Linked DNA regions of Homo sapiens: region 2 is linked to region 1. Evidence: fine-mapped expression QTL. Tissue or cell type: whole blood. Region 1 holds a variant in brackets; the other region holds the start of a gene. All regions are shown on one strand. Distances are between the middles of the regions.

Evidence for each region.
Region 2: it holds the start of GGTA1, and the variant in region 1 is fine-mapped to the expression of GGTA1 in whole blood (TOPMed, PIP above 0.99).

Annotation. Positions count from the first base shown.
Region 1 is chr9:121,518,590-121,529,164 of GRCh38, forward strand. It overlaps LOC107987016 (a long non-coding RNA gene), which reads right to left. Exons shown (of 2, transcript XR_001746560.2): 2 at 10,059-10,575. It also overlaps the pseudogene HMGB1P37. Among named protein-coding and RNA genes, the nearest start is that of GGTA1, 24 kb to the left of the region's middle. The variant A/C (reference allele first, on the strand shown) is at 5,552.
Region 2 is chr9:121,493,947-121,504,521 of GRCh38, forward strand. GGTA1 (glycoprotein alpha-galactosyltransferase 1 (inactive)) reads right to left here and starts at 5,898. Exons shown (of 6, transcript NM_001382585.1): 1 at 5,704-5,898. It also overlaps the pseudogene RN7SL187P. RefSeq lists silencers at 4,204-4,498, 5,848-5,947.

The sequences.
Region 1 (10,575 bases):
ATATCCAGCCTGTTTCTGATGAGGGAACACACTTCACAGCCAGAAAAGTGCAGCAATGAGCCCATGCTCATGACATTATTCACTGGTCTTACCATGTTTCCCATCATCCTGAAGCATCTGGCTTGACAGAATGGTGGCGTGGTTTTTTGTAGACTCAGTTACAGTGCCAGCTAGATGACAATAGGGCTGGGACAAGGGTCTTGAGAAGGCTGCCTAAGCACTGAATCAGCATCTGATATTTATACAGTATTGTTTTCCCCAAGCTAGTGTTACAGTCTCACCAATGCACCATAATGTAGCAGTCTCTCATTGTTCAAGGTATCATCTGGAGTTCTTTGTCTCGTGACCATGAAAATTAAGATGTGTGTACACCAAGGGTGAGATTGGAATGAAAGTTTAATAAGCAAAAGAAGAAAACTCTCTGCTGTGGAGAGGGGGCCTAAAAGAGGGTTGCCATTTTTACAGTTGAATGCAAAGGCTTCTATAGGAAACTGATGAGGGCTGGACATCTCATTTGCATAAGGTGCGAATTTCTACTAGCTCCACCCCATGCTCCTAATGTGCATGTGGGCCTTTAACTTGATTTACTCCATATTGCTTTGTTTCCCTTACTGCGCCTGTGTCAGGGGATGGAATTTTCCATTGCAGGTATGTCTAGGCAAGTTACCTGTGTAGGCTTTCTTATCTGTGCATCTGTGGGCATGTCTTAGGCAAGCCCCCATGCAAGTTCTCTTGTCTGTGTCTGCAGCTTGATTTTTCTTTTCTTTTTTTGTATTAAAAAAATGTATTTACTTAGAAGCATTCAGAATGTCAACAAAACAGCTGCAGCTTTTTTTTTTTTTTGCAATTACAGAGTGGTATTCTGTTAACAGAACAATTATTTTGTATAAGCTGCATCAGAGACAACTGAAGATGAAAAAACTACCATCCCCATATATAACTAAATTGTGCTGTGCACCAACAAGAACCTGCTTTAAATTTCCATGCCAATTTACAACCCCCATAGTGTACCAGGCAAGGTTAGTGTCTATTGAAAATACCACCAGGACAGGGCTATCTAAAGACACATTTGGTAGTGTGTTAACCATACAAAAAAAGACACTATACAGTTTAAAAACAAATCTTACAAAGCCTTGCATTTCAATTTTTTTCTTTAAAAGGAGTGAGTTGTGTACAGGGGGGTTAAATGCTTTATAGACAAGAAAAGAAACTGCGCTAGAACCAACTTATTCATCATCATCACCTTGTTCTTCATCTTCATCTTCTTCATCTTCCTCCTCCTCCTCATCCTCTTCGTCTTCCTCATCTTCCTCCTCTTCCTTCTTTTTCTTGCTTTTTTCAGCCTTGACAACTCCCTTTTTTGCTGCATCAGGCTTTCCTTTAGCTTGATATGCAGCAATATCCTTTTCATATTTTTCCTTCAGCTTTGCAGCCTTCTTTTCAGAAGGCTGCTTGCCATCTGCAGCAATGTCATTCCACATCTCTTCCAGTTTCTTTGCAACATCACCAATGGACAGGCCAGGATGTTCTCCTTTGATTTTTGGGCGATACTCAGAGCAGAACAGGAAAAGGGTCAAAGGAAGCCTCTTGGGTGCATTGGGATACTTGAACCTCTTTTTTTATCTCCCCTTTAGGAGGGATGTAGGTTTTCATTTCTCTTTCGTAATGGGCGTTGTCCACCTTTGCCATATCTTCAAATTTTCCTTTCTGTTTAGCAGGCATGGTCTTCCACCTCTCTGAGCACTTCTTAGAAAACTCTGAGAAGTTGACTGAAGCATCTGGGTGCTTCTCTTATGCTTCTCCAGACAAGTTTGCACAAAAAAATGCAAGTGAGAGCCCATCTGGCTCTCACTTGCCCCGGCACTGTCTCTATGGAGCTGAATGTACTGCAATGGCTGTGCAGCTTCGTTTTTTGGGCAGTTCTTTTGTTTGAAAGAATTTAACTGAGAATCCACCCTAACTGCCTGCCTCACCAGTTTCTTCCTTTCTCCTCTCTCATTCCCCCTCCTCAGGAGTGAAGACCATAACTGCTGTTAGGGAAGTGGGGAGATGATCCTTCTAGCTACTTTCTACTGGAGAGGGGGATTGTGTGGGGAACAGCTGGTAGGGTTCCTACTGAGGCCAGTCTAAGAGTCCTTGGAAGAAAGGTGCATCCATGTGTGGTTTCATTTGCATCACTATTTGGAGCTTGATAGCCTTTAGGAAAGAAGAAACAATTTGGATTATTAGAGGACATGTATTAAAACAAAGCAAAGGGGTGGGGGTAAGGACAGCCAAAAATCCCAAGGCTGCCAACATGCCCAGATAACTGGTAGCTATATTTCTGCCTGCTAAGATTTGGATGCATGGGGTTTGGCTTTGGTTAACTTCTTTGGTTCTATTTTCCAAAACAAAGAAAACTCTGGGTTATGGGAACTCTATTTACTCCCATCACCTGGCAGGATTTGCAGGATAATTGCTCAGAACTAGAATACTGATCTAGATTTTTACATTACCCATTTCTTTTTTTTTTCTGAGCTGCAGCCTGACATTGCTAGTTGGTTTACAGGAATAAGCAGGGTTAGTCTAAAATGTAGGCAAGAACTAAAAACAACCAAGGAGATTAGAATTTAATGACAAGTGTATAAGTTTTGAAATATAATTTGTCTCTCTCTGGTCCTCATTTTTTTAAAAACAAATCATGTTTTTAAAATTTAAAATTTTAAAAATTAAAAAAAAAATTTGCAAAATAAATGTTAGGTTTTTTTTTGTTTTTTTTTTGAGATGGAGTCTCGCTCTGCAATTCTCCTGCCTCAGCCTCCCGAGTAGCTGGGATTACAGGTGCATGCCATAACGCCTGGCTAATTTTTGTATTTTTAGTAGAGATAGAGTTTCACCATGTTGGCCAGGCTGGTTTCAAACTCCTGACCTCAAGTGATCCACCTGCCTTGGCCTCCCAAACTGCTGGGATTACAGGCGTGAGTCACCATGCCCAGCCAAACTTTAGTTTTATACTTGGCCTGATTATTTGGATAAAGTGCAACAAGAATAATTGTTTTTATATAGGCTTTTAAAATTGGCTTTGATAGAACTCTGTTCCATAAGAAATCTCAGATAGGAGTTTTTAAAGCCACGCCTAGCCATGGGTTTGTACCCTGAAATACCTATGAATTGGGTGAATTCCTCTCTTCTTATAGTTCCAAAAATATGGGGTTCTTAGACCTGTGAGAAAGTGACAATCTCTATTCACCACAGCTTAGGAACCCTGTATGGGGACGGTGTAGACAAGGTATGAGGCCAGTTTTCCCAAGGGGCTTTTATTGTCACTGTAAGTCAAGCTTGATTTACAAGGGAAGCATACCCTTCCAGTCAAAGCCAGTAAAACAACTAATTTCTCCAATTGCGTCCTGTTGCAAAATGAAATGGATTCTTATTGCACTGATGCAAACAACTATATTGCCATAAGTTAAGAGTACTCACAAATAGTTTCCAAATTTTGGAGAAGTCAGGCAGAAAGAAACAAACATGCTCCAAATTTTGTTTACAAGACTATACCTTACCTAATTATTAAAGGCTGTACATAGCTTGTTTCCTTGACTCTGAAAAACAAAACAAGGATCAGTAACTTTTTTTTGAGACAGAGTCTTGCTCTGTCACCCAGGCTGAAGTGCAGTGGCATTATCCTGGCTCACTGCAACCTCCGCCTCCCAGGTTCAAGCAATTTTCCTGCCTTAGCCTCCCGAGTAGCTGGGACTACAGGTGCCTGCCACTACTCCTGGCTAATTTTTGTATTTTTAGTAGAGATGGTGTTTCACCATGTTGGCCAGGCTGGTCTCAAACTCCTGACCTCGTGATCTGCCTGCCTTGGCCTCCCAAAGTGCTGGGATTACAGGCATGAGCCACGGTGCCCAGCCCTAGATCTGATGGCTTTATAAGGTGGAGTTTCCCTGCACAAGCTCTCTCTTTGCCTGCTGTCATCCACCTAAAATGTGACTTGCTCCTCCTTGCCTTCCACCATGAATTGTGAGGCCTCTCCAGCCATGTGGAACTCTAAGTCCAATAAACCTCTTTCTTTTGTAAATTGCCCAGTTTTGGGTATGTCTTTAGCAGCAGCATGAAAATGGACTAATAAACTCTATCTATCTATCTATCTATCCATCCTATTCATTCCATCTCTCTGGAAAACTCTGATTAATGAAACAACTAAATGCAATATGGAATCCCAGAGTGGATCTTGGACTAGAACAGGATATTAGTGGAAAAATGTAGGTAACTATTGTATTATATCAATGTTCATTTTTTTTTTTGAGATGGACTTTTGCTCTTGTTGCCCAGTTTGGAGTGCAATGGCGTGATCTTGGCTCACTGCAACCTCTGCCTCCTGGGCTCAAGTGATTCACCTGCCTTAGCCTCCTGAGTAGCTGGGATTACAGGCATGTGCCACCACATCCCGCTAATTTTTGTATTTTTAGTAGAGATGGGGTTTCTCCATATTGGTCAGGCTGGTCTCAAACTCCCAACCTCAGGTGATCTGCCCACCTCAGCCTCTCAAAGTGCTGGGATTACAGGCATGAGCCACCACGCCCAGCCCATTTTCTGGTTTTAATCACTGTGCAACAATTATGTAAGATGTTAACATTAAGGCAAGCTGGTGAGGAGTGTACCTTTTTTTTTTTTTGAGATGGAGTCTCACTGTGTAGCCCAGGCTGGAGTGCAGTGGTGCAATCTCAGCTCACGGTAAACTCCACCTCTGTGGTTCAAGTGATTCTTCTGCCTCAGCCTCCTGGGCGTGCACCACCACGCCAGGCTAATTTTTGTATTTTTAGTAGAGATGGGGTGTCACCATATTGGCCAGGCTGGTCTTGAACTTCTGACCTCATGATCCACCCGCCTTGGCCTCCCAAAGTGCTGGGATTACAGGCGTGAGCCACTGTGCCCGGCCGAGTGTACATTTTTTGTAAATTTTCTGTAGGTAATTTACAAAAGAACATTTCAAAAGAAAACCTTTTTTTTATTTAAAACATTAAAAAAAATTTTTTTTATTTCCATAGGTTTTTGGGGAACAGGTGATATTTGGTTGCACAATAAGTTCTTTCGTGGTGATTCATGAGATTTTGGTGCACCCATCACCCAAGCAGTATACACTGAACCCAATTTGTAGTCTTTTATCTGTCACCTCCTTCCCACCCTTTCCCCTTGAGTCCCCAAAGTCTATTGTGTCATTCTTAAGCTTTGCATCCTCATAGTTTAGTTTCCACTTATGAGTGAGAATTTTTTTTTTTTTTTGAGATGGAGTCTCTCTCTCACCCAGGCTGGAGTGCAGTGGCGTGATCTCTGCTCACTGTAACTTCTGCCTCCTGGGTTTAAGCGATTCTCCTGCCTCAGCCATCCGAGCAGCTTGGATTACAGGCGCCCACCACCACACCCAGCTAATTTTTGTATTTTTAGTAGAGACGGGGTTCACCATGTTGGCCAGGCTGGTCTTGAACTCCTGACCTCAAGTGATTCACCCGCCTTGGCCTCCCAAAGTGCTGGGATTACAGGCGTGGGCCACCGCATCTGGCTGAGTGAG[A/C]ATTTTTTTTTTAATTACTTGAGGTCAGGAGTTGTAGACCAGCCTGGCCAACATGGTGAAACCCTGTCTCTACTAAACATATAAAAATTAGCCAGGTATGGTAGCAGGTGCCTGTCATCCCAGCTATTTGGGAGGCTGAGGCAGGAGAATTGCTTGAACCCCAAGGCAGAGGCTTCAGTGAACCAAAATCATGCCACTGAATTCCAGCCTGGGTGACAGTGAGGCTGTCTCAAAAAAAAAAAAAAAAAAAAAAAAGATCACAGCTCACTGAAGCCCCGACCTTCCAGGCTCAAGCAATTCTCCTGCCTCAGCCTCCTGAGTAGCTGGGACTACAGGCATGCATCACCATGCCCAGCTAATTGTTTTTTATTATTTGTAGAGATGAGGTCTCGCTATGTGGCCCAGGCTGGTCTTGAACTCCTGGGCTCAAGAAATCCTCCCTCCTCAGCCTCCCAAAATGCTGGGATTACAGATATGAGCCACGGTGTCAGGCTGAAAACTGTTTTAGGGAGAGAGAAATGTATACGAATGTTCTTTGCAGTGTCATTTGCAACAGTGAAAAACTGAAAACAAGAAAAGTAGTCAGTAGTAACCAACAGATTGAACAAAGTGTAATCCTTTCATAGGATGGAATGCAATGGCACTATTTAAAAGAATGAGAAAGACCTGAATGTAGGAATATAAAAAGTTCTCTAAGATTTATTACTAGCAGGCAACATCAATATGCAGAATAGGAAGTATAGTTTGGACCCATTTCAAGCAAAATTTTAAAAAAGCATATACAGAATTTAAAAATATATATACGTGCTGACATGTGCATAAAGCTTTTTTTTTTCTGGGAAGAATCACAAGAAATTATCAACAGTGGGGAAAAGATAGTTGGGGGAAGAGACAGTTTTCATTATATAACTGTACTGTCTGCATTTTCCAATTTTATTTATGTATTTATTTTGTTTTTTCTTTTTTTGAGACAGCATCTCACTCTGTCATCCAGATTAAAGTGCAGTGACATGATCATTGCTCACTGCAGCCTCCACTTCCCAGGCTCAAGCGATCCTTCTACCTCAGCCTCCTGACTAGCTGGGACTACAGGCTCGTGCTACCATGCCCAGATAATTTTCGTGTTTTTTTGGTAGAAATGAGAGTCTCACTTTGTTGCCCAGGCTGGTCTTGAACTCCTGGGCTCAAGTGATCCTTTTGCCTTGGCCTCCCGAGGTGTTAGGATTACAGGTGTGAGCCACTGTACCCGGCTGGTTTTTTCTTTCAATGCTTTAAATATTTCACTCTCTTGTTGACATGATTTCTGACAAGCAGAAACACTAAAAATTATACAAATTATACAAAGAGTTCCCATGCACCCTTCACCCACATTGATGCTCCTTTACCTCTAGATGCCTCAGTCTGTATTTCCCCCAAAAAATAACCGCAGGCTAGTGACTAAATCAGGAAATTAAGGTCGATACAGTTCTGTTGTCTTCCACAGACCCTCATCATATTTTCCCTGAATTTACCCTCATCATATTTTCTCTGAATCACACCTTGGGTTAGTTATTGCTTCTCTTTAGTCTCCTCTAATCTGGACCACCACACCTGGCTATTTTTTGTTTGTTTGTTTTGAGATGGAGTTTCGTTCTTGTCGCCCAGGCTGGAGTGTAATGGCGCAGTCTTGGCTCACTGTAACCTCCGCCTCCCAGGTTCAAGCGATTCTCCTGCCTCAGCCTCCCAAGTAGCTGCGATTACAGGCACCCACCACCATGCCTGGCTAATTTTTTTGTATTTTTAGTAGAGATGGGGTTTCACCATGTTGGCCAGGCTGATCTTGAACTCCTAACCTCAGGTGATTCTGCCTGCCTCAGCCCCCCAAAGGGCTGCAATTACAGGAGTGAGCCACTGTGCCTTGGCCAACGCCCAGCTAATTTTTGTATTTTTTGTAGAGACAAGGTTTCACCATGTTGCCCAGGCTGGTCTTGAACTCCTAAGCTCAAGCGATCCACCTGCCTTGGCCTCCCAAAGTGCTAGGATTACAGGTGTGAGCCACTGCACCCAGGCTTTGATAGGACTCTTGATAAAGGTTGGCCAGGTTAGTCAGATGCCAAGAGGAGGGATTTTCAATAAGCAGACCTAGCAGGATTCCTGCTCCAATTGGATTCTGCAAGGACAGAAAGGGAAGCCCAAGAAAGTCCTAATCAAGCAGAGAACTCAGAGGAGCTTGACTAATATTTTGGTCAAAGGAGTGAGTCTTTGCCAATATAATCAGAGTTATTTCAAAATTTTTATCTGATAATTCCTTATTCTGTTTTATATCTGAGTCTGGTTCTGATGCCTGTTTTGCCTCTTCATGCCGTGTTTTTTTCTTGCCTTTTAGCAGACCTTGTGATTTGTTGTAGAAAGCCAGCCATCGAGTATCTGGTGGTAGGAACCCAGGTAATGAGGCTTTTAGTGTGAGGTTTCATGTTAATCTACTGAGGAGTCGGGCTGTCTGGAATGTTTCCTGCAGCTGTAGGTGCCACAGGCTTCAAATAAATTCCTCTAGTCCCTCCTTGTTGTTTTTCCTGTTGTCTTTGGTTTGCTAAGAATTCTTTTTTAAAATATTTTTTCATTAAAAAATGTTTTTGGCTGGGCACGGTGGCTCACACCTGTAATCCCAGCACTTTGGGAGGCCGGGGTGGGCAGATCACTTGAACCCAGGAGTTTGAGACCAGACTGACCAACAGGGTAAAACCCCATCTCTACTAAAAACACCAAAATTAGCTGGGCATGTGGTGGCGGCCTGTAATCCCAGCTACTCAGGAGGCAGGAGAATGGCTTGAACCTGGGAGGCAGAGGTTGCGGTAACTGATTGCACCACTGCACTCCACCTGGGCAACAGAGTGAGACTCTGTCTCAAAAAAACAAAAATAATAAAAGTAAACACTTTTTTTCAAGACAGGATCTTACTCTGTTGTCCAGGATGGAGTACAGTGATGCAGTCTCAGCTCACTGCAGCCTCCACCTCCTGGGCTCAAGCCATCTTCCCACCTCAGTCTCCTGAGTAGCTGGGACCACAGGTGTGCCCCGGCATGTACCAGCTGGGACCACAGGTGTGCACTGGCTAATTTTTTAATATTTTGTAGAGATGGGTCTTGCCATGTTGCTATGCATTCCAGGCTGGTCTTGAATTCCTAGGCTCAAATGATCCTCCATCTCAGCCTCCCAAAGTGCTGGTGATGGCAGTGGTGGCCTGTCTAGAGAAACCGCTGTCGTGACACTGGCTACAGTGGGTGAGGTGCGGCCGGCGCTGCATACTCCATGGAGCCAGTGGGGGCTGGGGGCTGGGGGCTGGGAGCAGACAGGAGCCCCACCCTTCCAGGCGCAGCGGCAGCTGCCCAATCCGTGGCTGTGGACCCAGGCATTTCTGTACTCTCGGGGGCCTGGGAAGACACCCCCTTCCCCCGCAGGCTTGGAAGTTCCTGCTCCCGTTGCCTGGCCTCTCCTTGATCTTGGAGTGAGGTTGGGGCTGAGCCCAGGCGCTGTCACAGCCCGGCCGGGTGTGGGTACACTTGGTGCAGTGCTGACACACAAGCCGCCTGCCACCTCAGCCCCTTCCAGACTTTGAACACCGATGAGCAGGGGAGGGAGGCCAAGGAGGAGCTGAGGGTTCGTACCCTTCCTCGGAGGGAAGGAAGTGTGCACCAATTGGTCCATGAGCGGCCATGAGTGGGCCTAGAAAAAGCACCACAAGTTCCCACTCCTTTCCATGGGACTGGCAGCCCAGCCCCCAGGCTTCAGGCCCTCCCTGGCTTGAAGGTGGGGCCTCACCAGGGACCTGCCTTCTCCCACCCAGGAGCCTGTCTGCCTCCTGCTGCCATTCATGGCGCCCAGTCTGTTCATGCCAAGGGGCCTGTAATCCTAACACTTTGGGAGGCTGAGACGGGCAGGTCACCTGAGGTCAGGAGTTTGAGACCAGCCTGGCCAACATGGTGAAACCCGGTCTCTACCAAAAATACAAAAAATTAGCCAGGCATGGTGGTGGGCACCTGTAACCCCAGCTACTCAGGAGGCTGAGGCAGGAGAATCGCTTGAACCTGGGAGGTGGAGGTTGTAGTGAGCCGAGATTGTGCCACTGTACTCCAGCCTGAGCAACAAGAGTGAAACTCCGTCTCAAAAAAAAAAATTTTTTTTTAAATTTTCCTTTTCAAAAATTTATAATTTTGTTTAAAAAAGACCAAGGTCTCTGTCACCCAGGCTGGAATGCAATGGCGTGATCATAGCTTACTACAGCCTTGGATTTCTGGGCTCAAGAGATCTTCCTGCCTCAAGAAAATTTTTTTTAAACATTATTTTTCTTTTCAAGAATTTATACCTTTTTTTTAAAAAAAAAACCAAGGTCTCACTCTGTCACTCAGATTGGAGTGCAATGGTGTAATCACAGCTCACTGCAGCCTCAAACTCCTGGGCGCAAGGAATCCTCCCTCCTCAGCTTCCCAAGTAGCTAGAACCCCAGCCACATACCACCACACCCACCATGTCCAACTAAGTTTTTATTTTTTGTAGAGATAGGACCTTGCTATATTGCCCAGGCTGTTCTCAAATTCCTGGCCTCAAGTGATCCTCCCACCTTGGCCTCCCAAAGTGCTAGGATTACAGGCATGAGCTACCTGCTGGTAGATCACTTCTGGTTGCTGTTATCTGTAAACTAAGAGGTTTCTGCCCTGGAGGCATTTGCAGTCTGGAGGGGGAGATAGAGGGTAAACCTGTAATCCTGTCTGTAAGTAAATGCTACAAATTGCAAGAGGTGCTGAGAGGTGCCACAAGAAAGTCTCCAGGGGAACCTTGAGGCAGAGAGAGGGTCTTGGCTGGCAGCAGTGACTGCTCAGTGGGTGTCTGCAGAAGGTTCAGGCAGAGAGGAAGGGTGGAGGGGCCAACATTGAGAAGCCAGGAAGCCTCAGACTTTCCAACTCCCTGGCCAGAGCATGGCCCTCTGGCCTTTATATTATCCCTGTTCAGTCATTCTCACCCTTAGCTTCATTTGACAACTCTGCTGC
Region 2 (10,575 bases), 25 kb before region 1:
GGGTTTTGCCATGTTGACTAGGCTGGTCTCGAACTCCTGACCTCAGGTGATCTGCCCGCCTTGGCCTCCCAGCATCCTGGGATTACAGTCGTGAACCACCGCACCCAGCCGCTAGGCTCACTCTCTCTGGAATCTCCTCCTCCATCTCAGACCACTCACTCTCTGAGTTAGACCCATGCTTTTCCCTGCCATTCATATCTGTCAGCCACACAGGGTTTCAGAGAGGAACCCCAGGAAGCACGTGCACACCCCCAAAGTCTCTTGTGGATGTCTGTGTGGGGTTGCCCTGTGGCACAAAATTTGAACAGAAGGCAATGGGTCTCCACCCCACTGCCATCACTGCCTCTGCCTCCTGAGACTCTGTTTGGCAATGAAAACTGGCATAATGGCTGCTAAAGCCCAAGCCTTGGAAACTCTCATGGCCGGGTCTGATTGCACGTGACAGAGGTCTGTGGTCTCCTCGCCACATTTGGACAAGCTGAGCCAATCAGCTCTTTGGCTGGAGATTTAGACAGCAGATATTCACTTCTTCTTTTTAGAACTGAAAGGACTTTTAGAAGTAATTCTGGGTTGCCAGGCATGGTGGCTCACACCTACCATCCCAGCTACTCAGGGGGCTGAGGTGGGAGGATCACTTGAGCCCAGGAGTTCTGGGCTGCAGTGTACTATGCAGATAGATCAGGTGTCTGCACTAAGTTTGGCATCAATATGGTGATCTCCTGGGAGTGGGGAACCACCAGGTTGCCTAAGGAGGGGTAAACTGACTTAGGTTGGAAATGGAGCAGGATAAAACTCCCGTGCTGATTGGTAATGAGATCACATCTGTGAATAGCCACTGTACCCCAGCCTGGGCAACAAAGCAAGACCTCATCTTTTACAAATAAAGGAAGAAAGAAAGAAAAGAAAGAAACCTGGGTTGAGCATACTACGTGATGACCCCTTTGCCTTCAGCGCATGGACCAAATCTACATCATTCTTTTTTTTTTTTTTTTTTTTGAGACAGAGCCTTGCTCTGTCACTCAGGCTGGAGTGCAGTGGTGCCATCTCAGCTCACTGCAATCTCCACCTCCCGGGTTCAAGCAATTCTCATGCCTCAGCCTCCCAAGTAGCTGGGATTACAGGATTACCACACCCAACTAATTTTTGTATTTTTAGTAGAGATGGGGTTTCACTTTGTTGGCCAAGCTGGTCTCGAACTCCCGACCTCAGGTGATCTGCCCACCTTGGCCTCCCCAAGTTCTGGGATTACAGGTGTGAGCCACCACACCTGGCCTCTCCTGACCTCAAATAAACTTCTGGAAAGAGTTGACTATCCTGGGCCAGGCATGGTGGCTCATGCCTGTAAACCCAGCACTTTGGGAGGCTGAGGCAGGTGGATCACTTGAGGTCAGGAGTTCGAGACCAGCCTGGACAACACGGTGAAATCCCATCTCTACTAAAAATACAAAAAACTAGCTGGGCGTGGTGGTGGATGCCTGTAATCCCAGCTACTTGGGAACCTGAGGCAGGAGAATCACTTGAACCCGGGAGGCGGAGGTTGCAGTGAGCTGAGATCATGCCACTGCACTCCAGCCTGGGCAACAAGAGCAAAACTCCATCTCAAAAAAAGAGAAAGAGCTGACTATCCTCATTGTTTTCATTATGTCCTCCTTACCTATCAGCAATCTAGCTTGCCTACCCTCCACTCCATCAAAACTGCTCTCAGTATGTTCCAGTAATCTCCTAATTACCCAATGCAACTTCTAATCCTTATCTTCCTGGACTGCTCTGAACCATTTAGCATGGAACTAAACTCATTATCTCTCCCCTTCCCAAACATTCATTCTCCCTTACTCTCTCAGCTAGTGGCACCATCATTCATACAGTGACCCGTGATGGAAAGCCACCATAAGATAATTCTAGCTTGGACTTGTTGAGTTTGCAGTGCCTTTGAGACATTCAAAACAAAGATGCCCATTGGGCAGTTAAACATGTGAATTAGATGCCCAAAGTTTGAGATAAGATGAATGCTACAGAAGTAGCATTTAAAGCCATGAACATGGATGAATTTGCCTGGCCCACAGAGTACAAGTACCAGGTCTTTAAATCCCAGTTGACCCATAGAGACTAACCTGTTATGTGATTTTCCTTACTTCTCTGTTGATTCCCCATTGCTCACAACTCCTTATCATGGCATGAAAGTTTCATCACAATCTGCACTTATTGCATCTATATAATGTGTATCAGTTAGCTTTTGCTGCAGCCATGCTGCATAACAAACAACCCCCAAATCTTAGCTTTTGGCCACAAAAGTCTATTTATTTTTCACATAACATATTAGTGCCCAGAAATCCCTATTCCTGAGGTCATTATTCCAACCACCATTTGGTTCTTTCCTTCCCAAGCCCTGGCCCATAATGGTCTCCATATCACCATCTCCATATCACCATATCCCTATTCTGCCCTGACTCATGTTATTTTCTCCAAAAACTCTTAAAATTCAATCGTAAAAAATAGAAGGTAGGCCGGGCGTGGTGGCTCACACCTGCAATCCCATCATTTTGGGAGGCTGAGGTGGTCAGATCACAAGGTCAGGAGTTTGAGACCAGCCTGGCCAACATGGTGAAACCCCAACTCTACTAAAAATACAAAAGAAAATTAGCCAGTGTGGTGGCAGGTGCCTGTAATCCCAGCTACTCAGGAGGCTGAGGCAGGAGAATCGCTTGAACCCGGGAGGCAAAGGTTGCAGTGAGCCAAGATCATGCCACTGCACTCCAGCCTGAGTGACAGAGCAAGGCTCCATCTCAAAAAAAAAAAAAAAAAAAAAAAAAAAGAGAGAGAGAATCGCTTGAATGAACCTAGGGGGCAGAGATTGCAGTGATTCAAGATCCCACCATTCCAGCTTGGGAGACAGAATGAGACTCTGTCTCAAACAAACAAAAAAAAGAGTTGTCAAATCAAACACGTAAGATTTGTAGGTTTTACAACTGGGCATGGTGGCTCACACCTGTAATCCTACCACTTTGGGAGGCGGAGGTGGGTGGATCACCTGAGGTCAGGAGTTCGAGACCAGCCTGGCCAACAGGGTGAAACCCTGTCTCTACTAAAAATTAAAAAATTAGCTGGGTATGGTGGTGCACGCCTGTAATCCTAGCTACTTGGGAGGCTGAGGTGGGAGGATTGCTTTAATCTGGGAGGTGGAGGTTGCAGTGAGTCAAGATAGCATCACTGCACTCCAGCCTGGGCAACAGAGGGAGACTGTCTCAAAAAAAAGAAAGAAAATAAGTTTTACATATCCAACCTAAAATAAAAGGAAAGTACAGGGCAAAGAGTACATTCATTTCAGATAAAATTATATTTATGAGTTTATACCTCTATTAATGTCCAGTCCCCTACTGAAAGCTGCCCCCTCCTTCGGTTGTTCTCCCCTCACCTCTGCCCCGTCTCCATGACATTTGTCCATTAGCCATTTTTTAGCCATCATGAGAGGTGATGTAATGGAAAAAGCACCAACCTTAGAGCCAGAACTGCATTCAAATCCTAGCTGCCATTTAGTTGCTGAGTGCCCATATGTTTCTTGGTCTCTCTCAGCCTTCCTTTCCTCAACTAGAAAATGGGTTAGCCTGAGGGGCTGCTCAGCCCACAGCCCCTCAGGCTCCAGTCTTAGAAGGCTGGACGAAGGCAGGGACGGGCGCAGAATGGGGACAGAGACTGAGTCCGTTCTGACATAGAAGTAGCAACAAGAACAAAAGCAGGGACACAGGCAGGTACCTAGTCTACTCAGTTGGGCCAGGGAACCTCATTATTTTTTACCTCAACCTGTGAGACCAACTCACATAAATGGTCCCACTAAAGGTCTGGAAGTGCTCAGAGGATGAGATTCACAGGCTTCTTCTCCCAGAAGGGCCAGAAGGCAGCCCTGTGGCCCTGGAGTTGGAGTGTAGGAGAGCTGGTGGTAAGAGCTGGGGAAATGGCTGCTCAGAGCCACCATGGCCAGACAAAGGCAGCTCCTAGCCTATGATTTAGGGGACAGGTCTCCTGGTAAGGTGTGGCCACTAGAGAAGTTTGCCCAAATCACGTTGCACACTTCTGGACCTCAGCTACTCCACCAAAAACTGGATCAGGTTGGATCTGAGCAATCTGACATCAAAAACGTTCTCAGGAGTTTCCCAATACATAGAGGAGATAAAGGAAGAACAGAACTGGTTCTGTCTGAAATAAGATAGGGAAGGGGCCAGAGCCCTGTCCTCTAGGTTCCCCTCCCCTACCATGGTGGCCCTTGAGGCAGGATGCCGGGCCTTACAGGACAGAGTTGAAACTTCTGGACTGGGCAATCCCTAGGGACTCGTTCAGCTCTGCCTTATTCAGTCATTGAGCACCTGTTACATGTAAATGAGATAACTTAGATCCACATGCTGCCCCCATCTGGTAGAGGAGGCAAAATTCACCCAGATGTAACTCCGAAAGAGGTAGAAAGTGCCTGATGTAGTCAAAGAAGCACAGAAATGCAGCAGAATAACCCTGTCCTCCACACCCCCCACTCCCAGAGCCCTCCTTCGCCATGCACTTGCATTTCCTTACTCAGAGACTGGAAGGAAGGTCTCCAGTAGTATCCTTATTTCACAATCGGGGAAACTGAGGCTCTGTCTGGGAAGGTGGTTCCTTACTGGCAGCAAGCGGCAGGCCAGGGCTGCACCCTACATCTCCTGCTTCCTCAGACACGCCTGTTTCCAGGTAAAGGAAGGAGGCAGCCCGGCCTGCTCAGGAGCCCGAAGGAGTGCAAAGGAAGAGCAAAGCCTCAAAACACCTGCCTCGGGTCTCGGTTCCTTCCTGCCGGAGGAGCGGCTCTCACACCCTCCGCGCCTCCCAGTCCCTCCCGGCCGCCACAGCGGGAAGATCGAGGAATCTCAAATCCCTCTGCTTCTCTGGCTCTTTGCGCGCTGACATTTTTTTCTTCTTCTTTTTACTGTTTTTTTTTTTTTTACTTTCTTCAAGAGTTTGTGCAATCATTGTGTTTAGCCGTTTTCCTGCCATTTCCAAACGCGGGGTGGTGTCCTTTTCGAGTAGGAGCAAGGTTTGAAGAGTTGGAGGAAACTCCCGCCTCCCATCGCCCCAGTGCTGCAGGCACCCCGGATGCCAAAGTTAGTGTCGGAAACTTTCCCCATGCTGGGCGTCTGACTGAGTCCTCGGCTCTCCGAAGCTCTCTGACATCTCCCTCTCTATTCCCTTCCTCCTTGGGGTTCCTGCGACCCTCACTTTATCCCCCCACTCCCAGATTCCCCTTCCCAGAGGCGCGCCCTTCCTATCTTGTCCTGGGCAAGAGCCATTCCTCTGTCCTGCCCCACAGGCAAGGACAGACCCCTCACTCACTGCGACTTACTTGGTCGCATCCTGTGTCCCCTGCGTCTCCCCTCTCTTCCCCCACCCCAACCCCGCGGACCCGTGGGGGAACCTCAGCTTGCAGCTCTTCAGGCTCCAGTCTTGGAAGGCTGGACAGAGGGAGGGACGGCCACAGGATGGGGACAGAGGGACAGAAACTGGGTCCGATTTGGCACCGAGGTAGCGACAAGAACAAAAGCAGGGACACAGGCAGGGCAGACACCGGGCAGCGCCGGAGCAGCGGCCCGCCTCCACTCCCTCACCACCCTCTCCCAAGCGCGGAGCCCCCCGTCCGTGTCCTGCTCGTGGCCTCCGGGGACCTGGGCGGCTCCCCGCGGGACCCACCTGATCCGCAGAACCAGGGCGCCGAGGGCCGGCGCGCGGTGAGCTGGGCTGAGCAGGACCGCGCCCAGCTCCCGGCCCCGGCGAAGCCCTACGCGCTCTGATCAGCCACCGCGCCGCCTCCGCCCGAGCGGAGGCGCGTCCTCCCGCCCGTGGGCCGGCCGGCCGGGCTTCTGCTCTGGGCAGAGCGCAGCGGGTAGGGGCGCGAGGAGCCGGCGAGCGCTGACAGCGGGCTGCGCCAAGCCGGTCCCCGCCCCGGACACAGACAGCTGGAAGGCCGGCGAGCGAGTGCGTGAGTGAGAGTGTGTGTGTGCCGGGGAGGCGGATAAAATCCCCGGTGAGAGTGGCTGGGCCTCTTTTGCCTTCTCGGGCCTGCACGTGGTGGTGGTGGTGTAGGTGATAGAGCAGGAACCCCGGGCGTTGGAGGATGGGGTGGGGTCTGTGCTGTGCTGCTGGGAGGGGCTGCGCTGCGCTGGCGCACGGCCAAACTCTGGGAAACTCAGAGCCTTGGAGATCTGATCCACCGTTTGTTTCCCGAGGAAGGAAGAGCGCGAATGTAGACAGCGGCAGGCCGGGGCTGGAGTCGCTCTTGCGAGAGTCCTGAGCTCTGGAAGTGAGGGCTGGGCGTTGGGCACCTGGTTCAGGGTCTGCCCGCGTTTGCGCACTGACTTCATGATCTGTGAGCCCAGAGTGTCTCAAACGGGGCTCTAAGGCAGCCCCTAGGCTGTGGAATAACTCTTTAGTAGAATTATGTAGAAAGGAATCCAAACATTCGATTTCAGAGTGTGCGCTTCTGTGCCCAGTGTGGCAGCAATTCACTCAGAGAGTTGCTGTGGCCACAACTGGCTGCCCTCAGTTCTCTTGTCTTATACTGATAGCGACAAGGTCTTCTCACTCCCGCTCATATCAATCTACTTTACAGGTGGAAAAGTCAGAACTTCATTTTGCCATTTGCCGTTGAACGTCATTTTCATAGACTAAGAAATTCGCTTCTTAAATAATTCGGCCGGGCGCGGTGGCTCACGCCTGTAATCCCAGCACTTTGGGAGGCCGAGGTGGGCGGATTGCTTGAGCTCAGGATTTCCAGACCAGCTTGGGCAACGTGGCGAAACCCCGTCTCTACAGAATATAGAAAAATTCCCCAGGCCTGGTGGCGTGCACCTGTAATCCCAGCTACTCGGGAGGCTGGAGACTGAGAAAGAAAAGAAAAAATAAAAAATAAATACAAATAAAAATCAAACTGCCAGGCCAGGCGAGGTGGTTCTAGCTTGTAATCCCAGCAGTTTGGGAGGCCAAGATGGGTGGATTACCTGAGGTCGGGAGTTCGAGAGTAGCCTGGCCAACATGGTAAAACCCTGTCTCTACTAAAAATACAAAAAATTAGCTGGGCATGGTGGCACACGCCTATAATCCCAGCTACTTGGGAGCCTGAGGCAGGAGAATCACTTGAACCCAGGAGGTGGAGGTTGAAGTGAGCCGAGATTGCGCCACTGCACTGCAGCCTGGGTGACAGAGCGAAACTCAGTCTTAAATGAATAGACAAACAAACAAACAAAAAAATCAAACTGCCATGAAAACTACTTTACCCAAAATTTTAGTTCACAGCCTTCATTGGATTATCTATTGGGGCAAACAAAGTAAAACCAGCGAGCTTGTATTGCTATCTCATGGCTACAGTTCCAAGCTATTGGATCTTTGTTTGTGTCGGTATATACATGTCTAGATGTGTTTATTTGTAGGTACACTTACTGTTATATCTTGTGCCTACCAAATTGGCATATAAATAAAAGAGTGCTCATAAATTAACTAAATAAGTCTAAGCAATTTTCAAGTTCATATGACTTAAGTATAACTTTAATAAACAGGCTGGTTTTAAAATTATTGGTAAAATAGAAATGCTTTCAGAATTGTCAGCATACATTTTTGTCTGGACTTTATATTTGTCTCTGCTAAATACTTTGAGGTGTCAGAGTTTGGCATAGAAGGTTATAAAACTATAAACCCAGCCAAAACAAAATGATCTTGGTTTGCGTGCTTTTTTTTTTTTTTTGACAAATGAGAGTTAATTTAATACTATTAGCTAAATCTTCTGAGTTGTTGGCAAAAATAGCTATGTATTTAACTTTGATATCCTTCCTTATGTTTAGGTGAGCACCTGATGCTCACTGGCTATTAAAAACATGGTTAGGCCGGGCACAGTGGCTCACGCCTGTAATCCCAGCACTTTGGGAAGCCGAGGTGGGCGGATCACTTGAAGTCAGGAGTTCAAGACCAGCCTGACCTCCACCTACTGGGTTCAAGGGATTCTCCTGCCTCAGCCTCCTGAGTAGCTGGGACTACAGGCACATGCCACCATGCCCAGTTAATTCTTTTATTTTTAGTAGAGACAGGGTTTCACCGTGTTAGCCAGGATGGTCTCAATCTCCTGACCTCGTGATCTGCCTGCCTCAGCCTCCCAAAGTGCTGGGATTACAGGCATGAGCCACTGGAATATTCTTAATTCATGGCAATGTGTTTGTTTGCATACAGTCGAGCAGCATCATTTGGGCCGCTCAAGGAGAAAGAACCCAGAAACCTAACATGCCAACAATAGGGTAAGAATTTCTTTCTTTTTTTTTTTTTTTTGAGATGGAGTCTCGCCCTGTCACCCAGGCTGGAGTGCAATGGTGTGATCTCGGCTCACTGCAACCTCTGCCGCCTAGGTTCAAGTGATTCTCCTGCCTCAGCCTCCGGAGTAGCTGAGATTACAGGTACCTGCCACCACACCCGGCTACTTTTTGTAGTTTTTAGTAGAGGTGGGTTTCACCATCTTGGCCAGGCTGGTCTTGAACTCCTGACCTCGTGATCCACCCACCTCGGCCTCCCAAAGTGCTGGGATTACAAGTGTGAGCCACCGCGCTGGCCTAGGGTAAGAATTTCCTACCAGTTGGACTTCTGGCCCCTCTCTCTCTCTCTGCAAACTGGTTGAATGACTTATAAAAGATTATAATAATTCATGACAATGCAAATTTTTGTAAACCTTTTACATGTTTGGTAGCCTTCCCAGGATCACATTTCAGTTCTGAGGTTGTCTTTTTTTTTTTTTTTCCTTTGGGACAGAGTCTCGCTCTATGGCCCAGGCTGGAGTGCAGTGGCATGATCTTGGCTCACTGCAACCTCCGCCTTTCATTTTCATTACATCTCTGCTTTTGTTGCTTCATTTTTTCCTTGCTTTGTTTCTGCATTTTTGTCCAATTCTTTGCTCAGAATGCCAAGAACCTACACACCCTCCACCGGTAACACTTCCTTTTTTTTTGATATGGAGTTTCGCTCTTGTTGCCCAGGCTGGAGAGCACTGGCTCGATCTCAGCTCACTGTAACCTCCACTTCCCGGGTTCAAGTGATTCTCCTGCCCCAGCCTCCTGAGTAGCTGGGATTATAGTTGTATGCCACCATGCCTGGCTAATTTTTGCATTTTTAGTAGAGACGGGGTTTCGCCATGTTGGCCAGGCTGGTCTCAAACTCCTGACCTCAGGTGATCTGTCCACCTTGACCTCCCACAGTGCTGTGATTACAGGCTTGAGCCACCACGCCTGGCCTAACACTTCTGTTAAGCCCACCTGGAGCCTACTACTGGTAGGCCCTCCCCAGTGACTTGGATAACCACCTCTTGCATTTCTTGCATTTCCTCTTCCCATCCTCTCTCACCCTGTCCTCCCTCTGTCCTCCCCTTTCTTCCTCAGATTCTCCATGTCAGAAACACCAAGGTGAGGTGGCCTCTGGCAGGCAGGGTTTGGAATGCACTTCCAGAATGTTCTTGGCAGGGAAAATGCCCTCCTTGAGATCTTGGTGGGGAAGAGAAATGTCAGTAACAGTGAGCTGGGAGGCAGGGGGAGGATCGATTTCCCCAAAGTCTGATGAGCCTTTTTCACAGAAATACCAGATAAAGGAAGTGCAAAACTTCCACAGAACTAGAAAAACACACAGCCCAGGAACCCTGAGAGATGGCCAGTCCCAGCCCTCAATTTATAGATGAGGAAACGAGATCCAGATGGCAGTGACTTCCTCACAATCACAAGCTTGGCATTTGCAGAGCTAGGTTTTGTTCCCATAGCTCTCTCACTTGCTTCTCAGCCCCACGCAGGTGGGGAAACTCCTAGGTCTTGGGGGCCTGGGGGGAGGTGTTTTAAAGAAATTCCCAGGAGTGGTAAGGTTGGTCCGGAGAAGCAGAAGGGAACGTGAGAGTAGAGTCTTGGAGGAAGTGGAATGAACAGACAGCATTTGGAAGGGGTGCGGGGCAGGGAAAAGTATGTGTGCCCTGGCACGGGAGAAGGACCGTGAGATCCCTGCAGGAGGACATTGGGCCAGAGAGGCCAGCTGAGGAGTCACAGCAGGGAGGCTTGGAAGGGGAAGACCAGGGGTTTGCATTTTATATTTTTTCCTTTTTTTTTTTTTTCTTGAGACGGAGTCTTACTCTGCCTTCCAGGCTGGAGTGCAGTGGAGCAATCTCAGCTCACTGCAACCTCTGCCTCCCGGGTTCAAGTGATTCTCCTGCCTTATCCTCCTGAGTAGATGGGACAACAGGTACTACCATGCCTGGCTAATTTTTGTATTTTTAGTAGAGACAGGGTTTCACCATGTTGGCCAGGCTGGTCTCGAACTCCTGACCTTGTGATCCGCCTGCCTCGGCCTCCCAAAGTGCTGGGATTACAGGCATGAGCCACCACACCTGACCTGTAAACCTTTTTACACTTTCAGATTGTTGTTCCATGAGAATGTCTTATGTATTTTTAAAATTAAGTACATAAAAACAATTTTAAAACACACATTTAAAAAAGCTAACGTACCAGGTCTTCTCGAGAGTTTGCATGTTATCTTCTGGGCATTAGAAATAAA